Regions from separate parts of the Homo sapiens genome. Here region 1 is linked to region 2. Evidence: fine-mapped expression QTL. Tissue or cell type: whole blood. Region 2 holds a variant in brackets; the other region holds the start of a gene. All regions are shown on one strand. Distances are from middle to middle.

Region 1 (8,101 bases), 71 kb before region 2:
CTCGGCATCCCCGCCTCCTCATAGCACCTGCACCGGCCACTGCCTGGTGGTGCCAGCCAGCACCTGGCTCTGTCCACCTACCACTTCCTCTGGTCCACCTGGCCTCAGCCACATAGCAAGTCCACCCTCTCAGCCATCCCTCCACCTGTGGGTCTCACCATCCAGCACTCTTTTCCAGGTCTTTGAAGGCAGGAGTGATTTGGGTAGGTTTTAAGTCAGTGGGGAAAAGCTCAGAAAGAGTGGCCTGGAAAAGAGCACACAGGTAGGTGGGGCTGGTCTTGGTGCAGCCCTTGGCAAAGGGCAGTGGGCACAAAAGGGTGAGAGCTGGACTGGAGGCTGGGCCCCTCCCCTCACCTCTGGTGGTTTGCACAGCTTCCCGGGACCCTTGAGCTGCCTACCCTGGCCATTTGGGAAAATTCAAAGGCTGTGCAGCTTCCTTTCCATGCCCTTTCTTTCCTTTTTTTGAGACAGAGTCTCGCTCTGTCACCAGACTAGAGTGCAGTTGGTGCGATCTCGGCACACTGCAACCTCTGCCTCCCGAGTTCAAGTGGTTCTCCTGTCTCAGCCTCCCGAGTAGCTGGGATTACAGGCACACACCACCACGCCCAGCTAATTTTTGTATTTTTAGTACAGACGGGTGTCACCACGTTGGCCAGAATGGTCTTGATGTCCTGACCCTGTGATCCGCCCACGTCGGCCTTCCAAAGTGCTGGGATTACAGGCGTGAGCCACCGTGCCCAGCCCCGTGCCTGTCCTTTCTTAGGAAAAGGCTTTCTTAGGAATGCCCTCCCAGGCAGCCTTGGGCCTCAGCTTCTGACCAAACACACCAGACCTGGTACTACCCAGTCCCGGTGGCCAGGTGCAAGAGTGTAAGGACCATTGTTTTTGGCTCTGCCCAGGGCCACAGCTCTGGGATCACACACTCCCAAGCTTGGGGACTATTCTTGGTCCCTGTTGTACAGGCCCAGGTGGGGTACAGGTCAGGCCTGCTGAGGACCTCTGCACCGTGGGGCCCCTCTCCCTGTAACTCATCCCACCGGCTGGTTCCACAGCAGCTCCCAGGAAGCTGCCACACATTCCAGCAGCTGCCCTAAGCCACTCTGAGCCTGCATTCTTGGGGTTCTCCCACTGCTCCATGATGGTAGCCTGGCCAGACCTAGGAGACTCCCTGCCACTGGATGTGGCCCAGACATTTCTGGGCAGGGCCCCCAAGTCCAGTTTGGGGCAGATACCAAGTCTCCCTTCCGGCTGGGCTTAGAGCTCTTCCCTGCAGCATGCCCCCTTCATCAGCTGCTCTCTTCTGCTTCTAGCTTTATGTCAAATGTCAAAAATGTGTTAATTCAAAGTGCCTAGAACAAGGCTAAAAACAGTGAGCTCTCAGTGGCTATGTTAGATGGCTCTAGACACCCCCATTCCGAGGTGCCTGGCAGGGGCCAGCACTGACTCCCAGGCCACACAGCCCCTGGAGGAGGAAGGTTACCCAGAGTGCCCCCAGCAGGGGCTGGCACAGGTGCTGGTTGTGAGCACCATTCTGGGCAGGCTGCCAGGCCAGCAGGGTGGGTACAGGCTCTGTAGGGAGCTGCGCTGGGACTGGCAGAGGAGCCAGGACGAGGGGCTAGAGCCAAGCTGTGGTACTCCAGGCAACCAGCTGCCAGCACCTCCTCCCATGGCAACCCTACTGTTGACCGGCGTGTCCTGCATTCACCCCTGTTCCTGCCCCACCCACCATTGGAAAGGGCCTGGTCGGGGATTCTACAGACCTCTGTGGCCACTTGATGGGGCTTGGGACTAGGCAAGCCCTGAGAGGGCAGTGGAAAACCTCACCCTGTGCTGTGTGGGGCTTGGCCCTTTCTGGGAGAAGCCAGCGGCCTGGCTGCTCACCCCCAGCACTTCCCACACCGCAGGACCCCCACTCACCAGCCTGTGTTGAGGGCGCTTCACCCCGCATCTTCTGCTGGGGTCTGCCGCTGCCCCCGCCCCTGTCCCATCCCGGGCCCCAGGGCCCCATGACGCAGCAGCTCTTCTGACCGCAGATCCCGCCTTTCTGGGCTGTAGTAAGTGGTGGCTGTGTCTCCCACCTGGTGGGAAGGTGGCAGGGAGGATGGGGAAAAGAGCCCCAGCCTCCAGCCCTGGGAGGAGGTCTCCACAGGAGTCCTTGGGAGGGCGGGGCTGGTGGGTGATGAATGGGGCTGCTGGACACGGAAGATGGCTGGACAGAGAACAGGACACAGGTGGGAGAGAGTTCAAACCATTTACTAAGCAGATTCTTAGCCTTCCCACTCCCGCCCTCTCTCAAGCTCCGGTGCCCACAAGCCTTGCCTGGGGAGATGCTGGAGTGAGACCGGGAGGTCCAGGCCAAGTCACTGGTCCCTGGGCTCGGGCCCTGCCGATGGAGTAAAGACCAGCTGTACACATCTTCCGGTGGGGGCCCTGGGCTCTGCATCCGCCCCTCCGAAGTCAGCAGGAGCCTCTGGGAAGTAAGGCAGCAGCCAAGACCCCCAGCGTCTTGGAGGGGAAGCGAAATCCTCAGTCTGACACCCGCTCTGCCTATGGAAACAGCGCCGCGCACAGAAAAGGAAACTTCATTCCGTCTGTTAAGGGCAGGGCCGGGCTAGTGGCAGGAGAAGGTCAGCTGCGGGCGCAGGCAGGAGCGGATCCAGGAGCCGCGTCGGGGCGCAGAGCCGGACGTTCCGAGGAGCCTGCGCGCCGCGCTACCCGGCGGAAGCCGCGGTCCATGCGGGGCTCCCCAGGCTTATCCAACGCCTCGCAGGCGTGGCTGGCAGGAGGGGCCCGGCCGTGCCCAGCGCCCTCAGACGTAGTTCTTCTTGTCGTAGTCGCCGGTGGCCGTGGGCCGCCGCGGCGCTGAGTACTTCACGGGGAAGCTGAGGTCGGGACGGCCGGTGCAGACCCAGGCGCCGCAGCACAAGAGGCAGCCGCCTACCATGAGCAGCGCGGTGGCCGCCCAGCCGATGTACAGCGCTGCGCCCAGCTCGTACTTCTGCGACACGGGCACAGACGGGTCGTAAAACTCGCGGACGACAATGTTGGCGAACCAGCAGAGTGGCACGAGCGCCAGCAGCCCGCAAAACAGGTAGAGCACGCCTCCCGTGAGGGCCACACGCGCCTTGGCCGGGCCCGGGGCCACGCAGGTGGTGCACTGCGCGCCCGCCAGGGTCACGAAGAGCGCAACGAACGCCAGCAGCACGGCGCTCACGGTGAGCGCCCGCGCCGCCTGCACCTCGGTGCTCAGAGCCAGCACCGAGTCGTACACTTTGCACTGCATGTGCCCGGTGCTCTGCACCACGCACGACATCCACAGCCCCTTCCAGGTGGTCTGCGCCGTCACGATGTTGTGGTCCAGGAAGGCGGTCACCTGCCACATGGGCAGCCCGCACGCCAGGATCAGACCCCCCCAGCCCACCAGGCACAGCACCAGGCCCAGGATCTCCAACGCTGCGGACCCCATGGCTAGAGGCGAGACGCGCACCCGAAGGCCCGCAGAACCCCCAAGGCCGTGCTGCGCGGCGCCCTGGGCGGGCCCTGGTGCCTTTGCGCCCGCGCTCCCGGCTCTTGGCCCCAGTCCGTTTGCCCCGCGGGTCTGTCGCACCTCCTGGGTCTGCCAGCTCCTGCCGGGGGGTACCCTCTTTGAAGGTTCGGGGGCGGATTCTGTCCCCCGGGCCCGGCCCCCCGGCCCGAAGCAGCCAATCCGTGCGCGGGTCATCGTGCCGCAGCCAATCACAGAGCCTCTGGCAGCTGAAGTTAGGGAAACAACGGCTCTTGAGGGGTAGCTGAGGGCGCGGGACCGCTCCCCGCCCGGCAGCCGCCCCCAGCCCCACCCGCCGTTGTCCTAGTCGCGGCCGAGCGCATTCTGGGCTGGCCTAGGGCGCGCTTCTTGGGCCGCCTCCCTGCGCGTCCCGGCCCCGTCACTTCAGAAGGCGCTCGACCCCCAGTCTGCACCACCCAGTCCACTCCCACATCCCCGACTGAGCCGGGTGGTCTCTTCCACTCGAGCCAGCTCCACTTCCCTGACCAAGGTTTGCAGAAGCCCCCCACCCCGTCACCGCCGTAGAGGCCCTCGTAGGGGGGCTCTCCAGAAAGCCCGCCCCGGGGTCCAAGCCCCACCCAGGCCCTTTCTCGCACTCTCACTCTCCAGCCCCGCTCTGAGTCCCAGCACTGTCTCTCTCATCCCATGGCAAACAGAGAGGCCAGGCAGGCGTGTGGAGGTCAGGCCCAGGGCCCCAGCCTCACCCCCCATGCCACTCACTGCCTCTCTGGAGCCTGAGTCTCTGGCAAAAAGCGGTGGCACAGGGGCTTTCCCCCTGCCTGGCGACCCCCACTCTCCCAAGCCGCAGGGGCTTCCCAGACCTCTCAATCTTCACAGGGGCTGCTCCTCTTCCTGCGGTACTGCCCGCACCCCATCCTTGGGGGCCCAGTTCAGGTGACACCACTTCAGGAAGTTCCCAGTGACCCAGCACACTGGGTGTAGCACCCAGGGGCAGTGGTGGCCCCAGGCCTAGCAGCCTGCTCTGGCCTTCAGACAGGAGAGACAAAGGGACACGGAGGGGCTGTGCCCTGCCCTCCCACCAGTGGCGATGGTGTCCCTGGCACCCCAGCCCCCAGGCCACCCTCCGGAAGCCAACTTGGAGTTTCCTGGCCAGGAGGAAGAGCCCCCATCCTTGCTGGAGGAGGGAGGCGCGGGATTTCCGGGCATTCTTCTGCACAATGGCCCAGCCATTTCTCGAAAGGTCCACTGGTGTGGACACTCCGGGCCCCCTGAGGCTCAGGTGGGGGCACGCGGCTCCAAAACCCACAGCCCCATGGGGGCACCAGCCCCTTTCTAGTAGTTCTTTCCCCAGTCTCTCTCGGCCCCTTTGTTTCCAGTAAAGTTTGAACTCCAGGCCCTGGACTGAGGCCACTGGGTGCCCAGTTCTTTTATCTGGTCTGTGCTCAGTTCCATTGGACAGGGCCCTCCATAGAAAAAGTATGGCACTGAGGCTGGTCACAGATGTGGGAGGTTTGATGACTTTCTCCCTCCTGGGGCCCGGTTCCCTTCTCCCCCTTCAGATGGCTCTGAGATGGTAAATGAGATAAGGCCAGCGTCTGGCTCACCTAGTGTGGGGAGGTTCTGAAGGCAAGTGTGCCCAGCCCTGAGGCTGGAAGGAAATCATACCCTCTTTGCTCAGCCCCACGTGGCCTCTCCCCACCAGGTATGGCTCTGAGGACCACTGCCTTCTCCCAGCTATCACTTTAGTCACTGCCTTCCTCCTGCTGCAGACCCATGGGCCATGCCCCTTCCTCTACAGACCCTCCTGGACATCTCCTCCTCTGTGTACTCCAGGGGTACAGCTGACCCACCCACCCTCTCACTCTTACTACCCCCTAACCCAAGCCCAGGGAACTTCCCCAGATCCCCCTACTCCCAGCCCTTCCATGCCACCATCTTCCTGGGATGACTGCTGCGGCCTCCTCAGGTCATCAGGGACCTGCCCTTGCCCAGCTAGGCCACCCACCCCACCAGGCCCCTCTCCTGGGCCTCACCCTACCTAAGACCCTCCATGGCTCACATTGCCCATGGACGAAGAGCCGACTCCCAGAGCAGCTGGATTGATGTGTACCTGCATGCGCTAGGACTGGCCAGTCCAGCCACCAGTCTTGGTGCGGCCCTGAGCACACACTCTGCCCCAGGAGACTTACCTGCCTATGGGCCTCACATGGGCCGTCTCTTACCTTGGCCTCTTCTGCCCGCAGCGTGTATCTGTCAGGTTGGGTCCTGCTCATCTTCTAAGATGTGTTGCCGAGGTCATTTCCAGGAACACCTTGCTGCACCGTCCCCCAGCATTGCTTTTAGAAGCTTGAGCTGGACCTGTCCTTTTGCTTGCCGACTTTCCCACCTAGTATCCAGGAATAACCTCCACAGGGTGGCTGTCTTCATGCGTCTGTCCTGCACAGGAGGCTGCCTGTTGCCCTCTAGCCAGCTTGGAGCTGCAGCCAGCCCAAGGCTCTCCCTTCTCACCTGGCTGCCTGTTTTTCTTCTCTCCTAGCTGTCACCCTAGGGTGGCCCCAGCAAGCTCATGTTTCTTTGGCGGCAGCCTCACAGCATCTCAGGGACGTGGCAGAGGAGTCTCAGGCTTCACCTTTCACAATCTGGTTTCTACCCTGACCCCACTATGTTGGTCGAGGCCCCAGGCTGCAGTGGAACAATGCCAATGCAGAGAGGCCCAGAGAGGGCCGCAGGGGCTGACGCCACCCCAGACAAACCCACCTCAGATGGAGGCTGGCCTCTGAGTAGCCCAGGCCAGACTCCGGAGGGGCATGAGGGTGCACCCACCTTTCCTGCCACTCATGGAGGGTCTGCTCACCTACTTCGTGGCAAGCACTGTCTCTAGGCAGAGCACACAGCACAAGAAGCTCCTGCCCAGAAGGAGCTGACAGGAACCTATCAACCAAGAACTGGGCAGGAAAGACAGTGGTGAAGGCCTCTCTGAAGAGGTGACATTTCACAGGGATCCGGGGAAGAAGTTCCAGGCAGAGCAGAAGCAATAGCCAGTGCAAGATCCCAGAGGTGGGAAGGGGCTCGGCGTCCAAGGGGCAGAAGCGGCCTTGTGTCCACAGTGCCACAGTGGTCCAGGGCCTGCAGGTGGAGATCGGAGGTGTCCTGGTTAGGCAGGGACACAAACCCCTGATCTCTGGTAAAGGGCCCTTGGGGCAGAGCACTGGCCAAGGCCACCTGCTCACCCCCAGCCATTGTTCTGCTTTCCCAGGGGAAGAATGGCAGGATCTCATTAATTGTGTGTGAGAAGAGCCTGAGTCTGCAGAAAAGCCAAGTTTATCTTGAGCAGCTGCTGGCTGACCCTGCCCCAGGGTAATCCCGTGACCTTCCAAGGATAAGCTAAATTTAGGCTCAAGATTCCTGGGGATTTGGGTTTGGGAAACTCCTAGTTAACAGATTTGATTTCAGGGGAAGTGAAGAACAGCGTTTCTTCTATCTTTCAGTTTTGAAACAGTTAAGGATGTGTCCTTCTATTTCCGCAAATGTTTGCAGAGCCTCCAAGCACAGTGTGGCCTGGTGCTCTTTCTTGACACAAGCCAGTACTCCTGCAGGCCGAGAGCAGCAGCTGGGGTCCTCCTGCATCCCTGACCACTGCACCAGGTGCCCGAGGCACCCTGTGTGGGGCCCCTGGGCGGCTGTGACGATGTGAGCAGCATCCAGAGTGGACAGTGCCAGACTCGGCGGTTTTGCGGGCATTGTTGTTACTCTTTGTGGTTAAACACAGGCATGGAGTCAGATTCGCTCCCGCAAGCAAGAAACTTTCTGGACTAGTGAGGTGGCCTCTCTGCCTTAGTTCCTCACTGGTAACGAAGCCCCCCAATGGTGGAGGCTGCGAGGCTGCAGGGGAGGCCGATGCCAGTCCCGGTTCTCTTCTGCCTTTCCTGAGTGCCATCCACCCAGGCTCCCAGGGCCTTCACAGCTCATCCAACCTCAGCCGCACCCCTCAGGGTAGTCATCGCTGGCTGTTAGTCAGAATTGGAGGTCACTGTGGCTTTAACTTCCCCAGCGGGTGAGGGAGTGGGGGGCAGGGAGCTCTGGTGTGATCCACGAAGGGTCAAGGGTTCTATAGAATGGCAAGCCAGGCCAAGCGCAGTGGCTCACGCCTGTAATTCCATTCAGGAGGCCGAGGTGGGCGGATCACTTGAGGTCAGGAGTTTGAGACCAGCCTGTCCAACACGGTGAAACCCCGTCTCTACTAAAAATACTAAAATTAGCTGGGCGTGGTGGCACGCACCTGTAATCCGTTACTCGGGTAGCTGAGGTGGGAGAATCCCTTGAACCTGGGAGGCAGAGGTTGCAGTGAGCCGAGATCATGCCATTGCACTCCATCCTGGGCAACACAGCAAGACTCCATCTCAAAAAAAAAAAAAAGTCCACCAAAGTACATCATAAACCAAATTTCGTAAAACTGGTGCTAAAGAGAAAGTCTTAAAAGCATGGAGAGGAAAGGCCGGGCGCAGTGGCTCAGGCCTGTAATCCCAGCACTTTGGGAGGCCGAGGCGGGCGGATCACCTCAGGTCAGGAGTTCGAGACCAGCCTGACCAACATGGA
Region 2 (8,101 bases):
ATTTGAGACAGGGTCTCACTCTGTCACCCAGGCTGCAGTGCAGTGGTACAATCATAGCTCACTGCAGCCTCAACCTCCCAGGCTCAAGCCATCCTTCTGCCTCAGCTCCCTGAGTAGCTGGGACCACAGGTGTGTACCATCATGCTCGGCTAATTTTTACATTTTTTGTAGAGATGGAGTCTCGCTATGTTGCCCAGACTGGTCTTGAACTCTTGGCCTCAAGGGACCCTCCTGCCTCAGCTTCCACAGTCCTGGGATTATAGACATGAGCCACTGTGCCCACATTATTTATTTTTGACAGCCAAATAGTAATCTGTCAGGTTAACATACTGTAATATATTATAGAGAAGAGACATTCCTCTCTGACTGGTATTTAATTTTACCCAAATTTTCACTATCGTGAATTTTGTTTAACTCTTCTTGGTTTTATGCAATTTGTAAAAAATCACTGTTCATAATTTGTCTTCCATGCAGTTCATGCCACAGCATTTGAGAGTGGGTGCTGCCCTCCTCCACCGTCCCTCTTCTATCAGAATTCCGCCACAAGAAATGTCCTGGCATTAACATTTTGGAAGCTGCTTTAGTGAGGGCCACTCTTGGGGCTGGACAAATGGCTACTTGAGGGTGGTATCTGCCATGAGGTTGGTCAGGTACAGGGGCTTGGCTGGCCTGGCCTGGTGTGGACTATTCCAAGGTCACGTCATCAACAACAAGGTGGGTTAGCTATGGTGCACATACTCCGCTACCCTAAGCAGCTGGAAACCTGGACAAAATGTCTGAATCAACTGTTTTCAGGTGTTGAGAAACAGGCCATGCAGAGCTGTGACCCCAGAGTCTACAGAAATGAGATGGCAAGGCGCCGCAGCTGCCCTGGGTTTCTGCCTTGGTGGGGTCGGGGGTGCTTCATGCACATCAAGCAGTGCGAGTGGCTTGGCTGCATTGAGGAGCGGAGATGGGGGGCTCTGAACAGCTGTGGTTTGTGGGCTGAGTCCTGGAGGGATGGGAACACTGCAGAGAGGGGGCTCCAGTAATCCTCAGGGTTGCCCCGAGCATTGGGAGATCCTAAGCTGTGTGTGTGCGGTGTGCAACGTCGTGGAGACAGGAAAGAACGAGTGACCAGGAGCAGAAAGGCAGCTGAGTCCAAGAGTTCACCTGTTCTGGGAGATGCTCGGGTGGCAGCCAGACTCAGTGGATGGCTCTCACTGAACTCCCGGGATGCCCTAGAGACCCCTGAAGAGCCCCACCTTAGTAGTGGAGCAAATAAGCTCTAGAGTAAGGGTGTCTTAGACCCTCCCCTGCAGAGCTTAAAACAAGGCTTCAAAGTGAGGTTGGAGGCGGGCCCCAATCTGGAGGCTTGGCTCATGCAAGGGACCAAATTGAGGCCTAGCTAAACAGGGAGGGGGCAGAAGCAGCTTTCCCTAAGATACACCCACCAGTGTGCCATGTCAGTTTACCATTGCCATGGCAACACCCAGAATTGACCTCTCCTTTCCATGGCAATGACCGGACAACCCAGGAGTTCCTACTGCTTCCCTAGAAATTTCTGCATAAACCACTCGTTAATCTGCATGTAATTAAAAGTAGGTATAAGTATGCCTGCAAAGCTGCCCTGAGCTGCTACTCTCTGCCTATGGGGTCCCCCTGCTCTGCAGGAGCAGTCACGGAGCTGCAACACTGCTGCTTCAGTAAAAGCTGTTTCTCCTACCACCAGCTTGCTCTTGAATTCTTTCCTGGGTGAGGCCAAGAACTCTTGAGGGCTAAGCCCCACTTTAGGGCTCATCTGCCCTGCCTCAAAAAAATCAAACTAGTCTGCCAGTGACTTTGCTGCTTAACCAGGCTTGGAAGAAAAGAAAACTATAGATCAAGGTCCTTCATGAACACAAATGTGAAAATCTTCAACAAAATATTACCAAATATGACTCAGCCATGTACAAAAAGGATTATACACCATAATCAAGTAGAGTGTATCCCAGGAGTAAATGGTTAGTTCAACATTCGAAAGTCAATCAACACAATTCTTCCTATCAGCCAACTCAAGAAGGAAGCATTTATGATCGGCTCAATAGATCCAGAAACGGCATTTAACAACATCCAACACCCATGTGTGACCAAAACACAGGAAGCCGGGAATTAAAGGGAATTTCCTTAATGTGATAAAGGCATCTACAAATGCCCTACAACTAGCAGCATGCCTAAGGGTGAAAGACCGAATACTTTTCCCCTAAGGGCCAGAGCAAGGCCAGGTTGTCTGACCCCATCATTTCTATTCACCATTGTACTGGAGGTTGTAGCAAGGGCAAAAGGTGAGAAAAAGGAAAGGCATACAGATTGGAGAGGAATAAACAAAACCATCTTTATTCCCAGATGATAGGATTTTCAGTGTAGAAAATCCGATGGAATCTACAGAAAAGCTACCGAAACTCACAAGGAAATATATCTACTAGCAAACCACTGAAAATTGAAATAAACATGTCCATTTATGACAGCACCAAAACACAAATTTGGTCATGAATCCTATAAAATATATGCAAGAGCTACATGCTGAAAACAATAAAACTTGGCCGGTGCAGTGGCTTATGCCTGTGATCCCAGCACTGTGAGAGGCTGAGGCAGGAGGATTACTTGAACCCAGGAGTTCAAGACCAGCCTGGGCAGCATAGCAGGAGCCCATCTTTATACCAACAAGGAAGAAAGAGGCCAGGCACAGTGGCTCACACCTGTAATCCCAGCACTTTGGGAGGCCGAGGCGGGCGGATCACTTGAGGTCAGGAGTTCAAGACCAACCTGGCCAATATGGTGAAACCCCATCTCTACAAAAATACAAAAATTAGCAGGGCATGATGGCCGGTGCCTGTAATCCCAGCTACTCAGAAGGCTGAGACAAGAGCATCGCTTGAATCCAGGAGGTGGAGGTTGCAATGAGCTGAGATCGCACCATTGCACTCCAGCCTGGGTGACAGAGCGAGACTCTGTCTCAAAAAAAAAAAAAAAGAAGAAAGAAAAAGATATATAAAAAGCTATAAAATGCTGATAAAAAAATCAAAGAATTCCTAAATAAATGGAGAGGTATATTGTGTTCTTGTGTTGGAATAGTCAATATTCCAAGGTTTACAAGATGTCAGTTCTCCCACACTGATCTAGAAATTAAACTAAGTCCCAGTGAAAATCTCTGCAGGTTTTTTGGTAGAAATCGACAAGCGGACTCTAAAATTCACAGAGAAAGGCAGGAAGCTACCATAGACACTACTCTAGAGAAGAATATGGTTGGAGGACACACACTATCTGATTTGAAGACTTACTACAAAGCTACGGTCATACAGACATGGTGGTGTTGGAGAAGGCATAGACAGATAGATCAATGGACAGACAGGCAGGCCACAGAAATCGCCCCACATGGCTGTGGTAGATTGCCTTTTGACAGTGTGAGGCCAGTTTAGTGGAGGATGGATTGTTTCGGGATGAAGTTCTTGGTTCAGAGGGTCTGAGACTCAAGGAGGAGTTCTGGAGCCCAGAGACACCGTTTTGGGAGGTGTAGACTTAGAGTTGGAATGGAGGACGTAGGAAGATGTGAGCTTCCCCAGGGAGATGGGAAGATGGAGGAGAAAGCTGGGGTCCTGACTCTGGAATAGGAGAGAGACAGGATTAAGAGAGGGACCTAAAGGCGGGGAAGCTCACGTCTGCACAATGGGGAACGTATCTGGGGAAGGAGCTGGCACATGCTGTCAGGTGCTTCTTTGAGCACAAGATGGCCCAGGCCGGAAAAGGGATTTCAGGGAGGTAAAGAAATGCAGAAGAATGGGAGAGCAGGGTGGAGACACAATGGTGCTGCACATCAGCCTGGTGTCACCCTCTGCTGCACATGGAGGGATGGGGGTCATGCCAACAAACAGCCATACAGTTTTCCTTCTTAGCTGCTTGTTTTTT[T/C]TGAGACATGGTCTGGCTTTGTTGCCCAGGCCGGAGTGCAGTGGCACAATCTTGGCTCACTGCAGTCTCAATCTCCCGAGCTCAAGCAGTCCTCCCACCTCAGCCTCCCAGGTATTTGGGATCATAGGCATGCACCACCATGCCTGGCTAATTTTTAAAATTTTTTGTAGAGACAGGGTCTCACTATCTTGCCCAGGCTGGTGTTGAACTACTGGGCCTAAGTGATCCTCCTGTCTCAGCCTCCCAAATCATGCTGAGATTACAGGCATGAGCTACCAGGCCCGGCCTCTCAACTCTTTTTTTTTTTTTTTTTTGAGACAGAGTCTCGCTCTGTTGCCCAGGCTAGAGTGCAGTGGCACAATCTCGGCGCACTGCAAGCTCCACCTCCCGGGTTCACGCCATCCTCCTGCCTCAGCCTCCTGAGTAGCTGGGACTACAGGCGCCCGTCACCATGCCTGGCTAATTTTTTTTGTATTTTTAGTAGAGACGGGGTATCACTGTCTTAGCCAGGATGGTCTCGATTTCCTGACCTCGTAATCCGCCCACCTCAGCCTCCCAAACTGCTGGGATTACAGGCTTGAGCTACCGCGCCCGGCCTCAACTCTTTAAAGTAAGATCTATCATCCCCATTTTACGGACAGGGGAACTGAGGCTGGGTTCCTGCCGCCAGCGAGTGGGACCCCTGGCCTTTGAGCCCCGGCCCTTCCCACCACCCTCTGCTGCTGGGGCTCAGCCCTCGGGCACGTGGTTGTGTTAATGGAGAGCCATGGCCATGACTTGGAGGGCCCGGAGAGCGTGCACATCATGCCTGCTTCCCATGATGCCCTGCGAGGTGGGCAGAGGCCGGGGGTGCTCAGGCCGAGCCCCTGCTACAGCAGATCTGAGGCACCAGCAGGGACTGGCTAGGTCCTCCCAGGCAGGCCAATGTGCCCGGGTCTTGGGCCTCTCTCTCTCACTCCTCACTGCCTCTCAGCTGCCCAGGCAGCGTCCCCTGCAGAGCAGCCCTGGAGCCTGGCCCCAGGCTGTGTTGCTGCCTCTTGCCCCCATGGGGCTGCCTCTGCAGGGAGCCTGAGTCGTTTCCTCCCTGGGCAGGTTTCAAAATGGCTAAGTCCAGTGGAGAAAAGAATGGCTCAAAGGGACCACAGGCTTGAATTTGAAAAAATAAAAATGCTCGATGCCAAAGCGTAGACGCACATTTATTTGAACGACTTACACTTTGACCTGAAACAGTTTTTTCCAAATTGTTTTCCACAGCGGTAATCTCTTCAAAATGAACACATGTGAGGTCTTCGAATGTATGTTAAAGGCCAGTATTTGTTTTTTTTTTTTTTTTTTTTTTTGCTTTGGAAGAACCGACCTCATCGTTTGCATGAGAACCTGATATTCTTGGTCCTCTGTACCTTTTGTAACTTCCTCTGAATGAGAGGAAATATGGTTTCCAGTTATGTTTAATTTACTTTAAACAAATCAAAGCACAGATTTCTACTTCCTGCCTGTGTAATACTTGACTGCAGGCAGCTTCAAAGGGCAGAATCACTGTTCTTGTGACTGTGCCTCTGTCGTGTTCTGTTATAAACAGTTCAAAGCTCTGCATTGTACAGGAGCGCGCGGAACAGCATGTAGAGATCTTTTTCTCTGTAGTGGCGGCAGAGCTGTGTGTGCCCTTTTGCTTTGCCTTGTGCTGGTGGTGGATTAAGTTTAGGTTTTCATAGAATATATATTTATGTAGAGACTCAGAGTTTATTTTTCCTGTTTTCTCCAGCACTGCTTAACTCATTCTCTGAAATGTTTATCACAAATGGCAGGTGGGGCTCAGAGGATGTCTCTATCTTTGTTCCTTGGCTTAAACTGGCAGGTTGTTGTAAAGGGCAGTGGGAGGGAAAGAAAACTAAGGGGAAACCAAATTACTTATTTAGGGCTTGATTTTCTGGCAGGTGAATTGGGCTTAGGAAACCCCACCTAGATTAGCAGCTGTTCCTGACCGGCCCCTCGCCAAAGCTGCACCCCTGGGTGGTGGTGGGGGCTTCAAATTAGGGTGTCCCAAGGGCTGGATTGTTCCAGCAAAGGTGTTCCTGGATTCCCAAAGCAAGTTCACTTGTTTTAGGAACAGTTCCCTGAGGCTCTGCAGGGGCTGCTGGGCTGCCTTGTCTCCCCAGGTCCATGACGCCAGGCCACCATCCATGCATCCTGTTGTGTGCTGGGACGGGGTGCCAGATGCTGGCATCCAGGAACAGAGAGTGGATTGCATGAACATGGCTACCATGCAGTTGGTTCTCTGCTGCTGGGGTGCAGGCACCTGAAAGACACGGAGGAGCTAACCCAGCTGAGAAGGGTGTGTGCCAGTCAGGACCTGGGGTGCAGGACACAAACATCACACCACTGGGTTGCACAAGACTTGGAGGAGGGGCCCAGGAGGATGACATCAAGGTCTGGAGGGGGTTGCTCAACAACACACCTGGATGTGCAGTGCAGGCATGGCACCTGCCTCTGCAGCAGGGCCCAAAGACTCGATGGGGCTGCCATGTGGCCTGATGTGAGTTGGAGTGAGGCTGTGACCCCCGGGTGAAAGCTGCAGCCTGCATGCATCGATCACAAGCGAGGGCTGGCTGTGTCCTCATCCCAGGAAGGGCGGGGTGAGGGCCTCACCACAGTGTGGGCAGGGCCCACTCACGCCCTGGGAAGTGAATCAGGAGGTGGCAGCAGGCACTGGGGCTCTCTAATCTCTTGCCCGTCTTTGTCCAGTTATTGTGAGAGCTCCAATTCCCTGTTCTTATTTCTCTGAAAGTGCTGATAAGATGGGTACAGAATAAATCAAATGCAAAGTTACGTTTCCTGGCTTAGGAAGCAAAAACCTAAGTATAACCTTGGAAGTGCTCCTGGGTACTCCTTTCTTTCCCCAAGGTGATTTTTCCCTCTTAAACACATTACAGTAAAATACATACAACATTCACTACTTTAATCATGTTTTGTTTGTTTGTTTGTTTGTTTGTTTGAGACAGGGTCTCGCTTTGTTGCCCAGGCTGGAGTGCAGTGGAGCAAGCACAGCTCGCCTTCTGGGCTCAAGTGATCCTCCCAAGTAGCTGAGACTACAGGTGTGAGCCACAGTACCTGACTGATTTTGAAAAAAAATTGTTTGTAGAGATAGGGTCTGGCTATGTTGCCCAGGCTAGTCCAAACTTCTGACCTCAAACTATCCTCCAGGCTGGGACTCCCAAAGTGCTGGAATTACACACGTGAGCCACTGTGCCTGGCCCACTTTAATTTTTTTTTTTTTTGAGATGGAGACTCTGTCACCCAGGCTGGTGTGCAGTGGCACAATCTCGACTCACTGCAATCTCCACCTCCCGGGTTCAAGTGATTCTCCTACCTCAGCTTCCCTAGTAGCTGGGACTATAGGCATGCGCCCCATGCTTGGCTGATTTTTTTTGTATTTTTTAGTACCAACACCATGTTGGCCAGGCTGTTCTTGAACTTCTGACTTCAAGTGATCCACACATCTCGGTCTCCTAAAGTTCTGGAATTACAGGTGTGAGCCACCGCACCTGGCCCCACTTTAACCATTTTTAAGTGCATTAAGGACATTCACAGTGTTGAGCAGCCAGCACCATCACCATCTCCAGAACGTCGTCATCTTCCGAGGCTGAAACTCTGTTCCCATTGAACACCACCTCCCCACTCCCCATGGCTGTCTCAGGAGCTGGCCTGAGCACTGCTGCCCTCAAGGTCACTCTAGAAGTGGAGCTTCAGTTCGGCCCCCACTTCCTGTGGCTCTATCCCTGCAGGTGTGCCCGGGATCCAGAGGTGGCCCCATGAGGCCTTGTCCGAGCAGGTCTGGCTGGACCCTTGCTCCTCTTGGAGCTGGGTAGGGCTGGGTGGGCTGCGTAGGGATGTTCAGGGCAGTGGTCACCTGTTGCCCAGCTCTGGGTGGAGCCCTGTCTGAAGACAGCTGTTCTTTTCTAAAGAAAGAAGATCTGTCAGACGTTAGTCATCTGCACCACTGTCACAGCTGACGTTGATTGAGCTCCTGTGTCCTGGGCACTGTCCCAAAAGCCCCCTGCATGCAGTTCTTGCCATTTAGTACCTTTTGTTTTGTGTTTACTGAATGGATACAGCCGGAAGCTAGCTAAATTTAACTCACGCCCTCGACTTGGGTGGAGGTGAGGAAGGGGCTTTCTGA

The links. PIP is the estimated chance that this variant, and not a neighbour inherited with it, causes the effect.
Region 1: it holds the start of CLDN5, and the variant in region 2 is fine-mapped to the expression of CLDN5 in whole blood (TOPMed, PIP above 0.99).

The regions. Positions count from the first base shown.
Region 1 is chr22:19,520,790-19,528,890 of GRCh38, forward strand. CLDN5 (claudin 5) reads right to left here and starts at 3,621. Exons shown (of 1, transcript NM_001363066.2): 1 at 2,238-3,621. The coding sequence starts at 3,466. The coding sequence ends at 2,810. RefSeq lists an enhancer at 1,304-2,236.
Region 2 is chr22:19,592,128-19,600,228 of GRCh38, forward strand. No RefSeq gene overlaps it. Among named protein-coding and RNA genes, the nearest start is that of LINC00895, 29 kb to the left of the region's middle. RefSeq lists enhancers at 4,254-4,796, 5,832-6,332, 6,333-6,833. The variant T/C (reference allele first, on the strand shown) is at 3,925.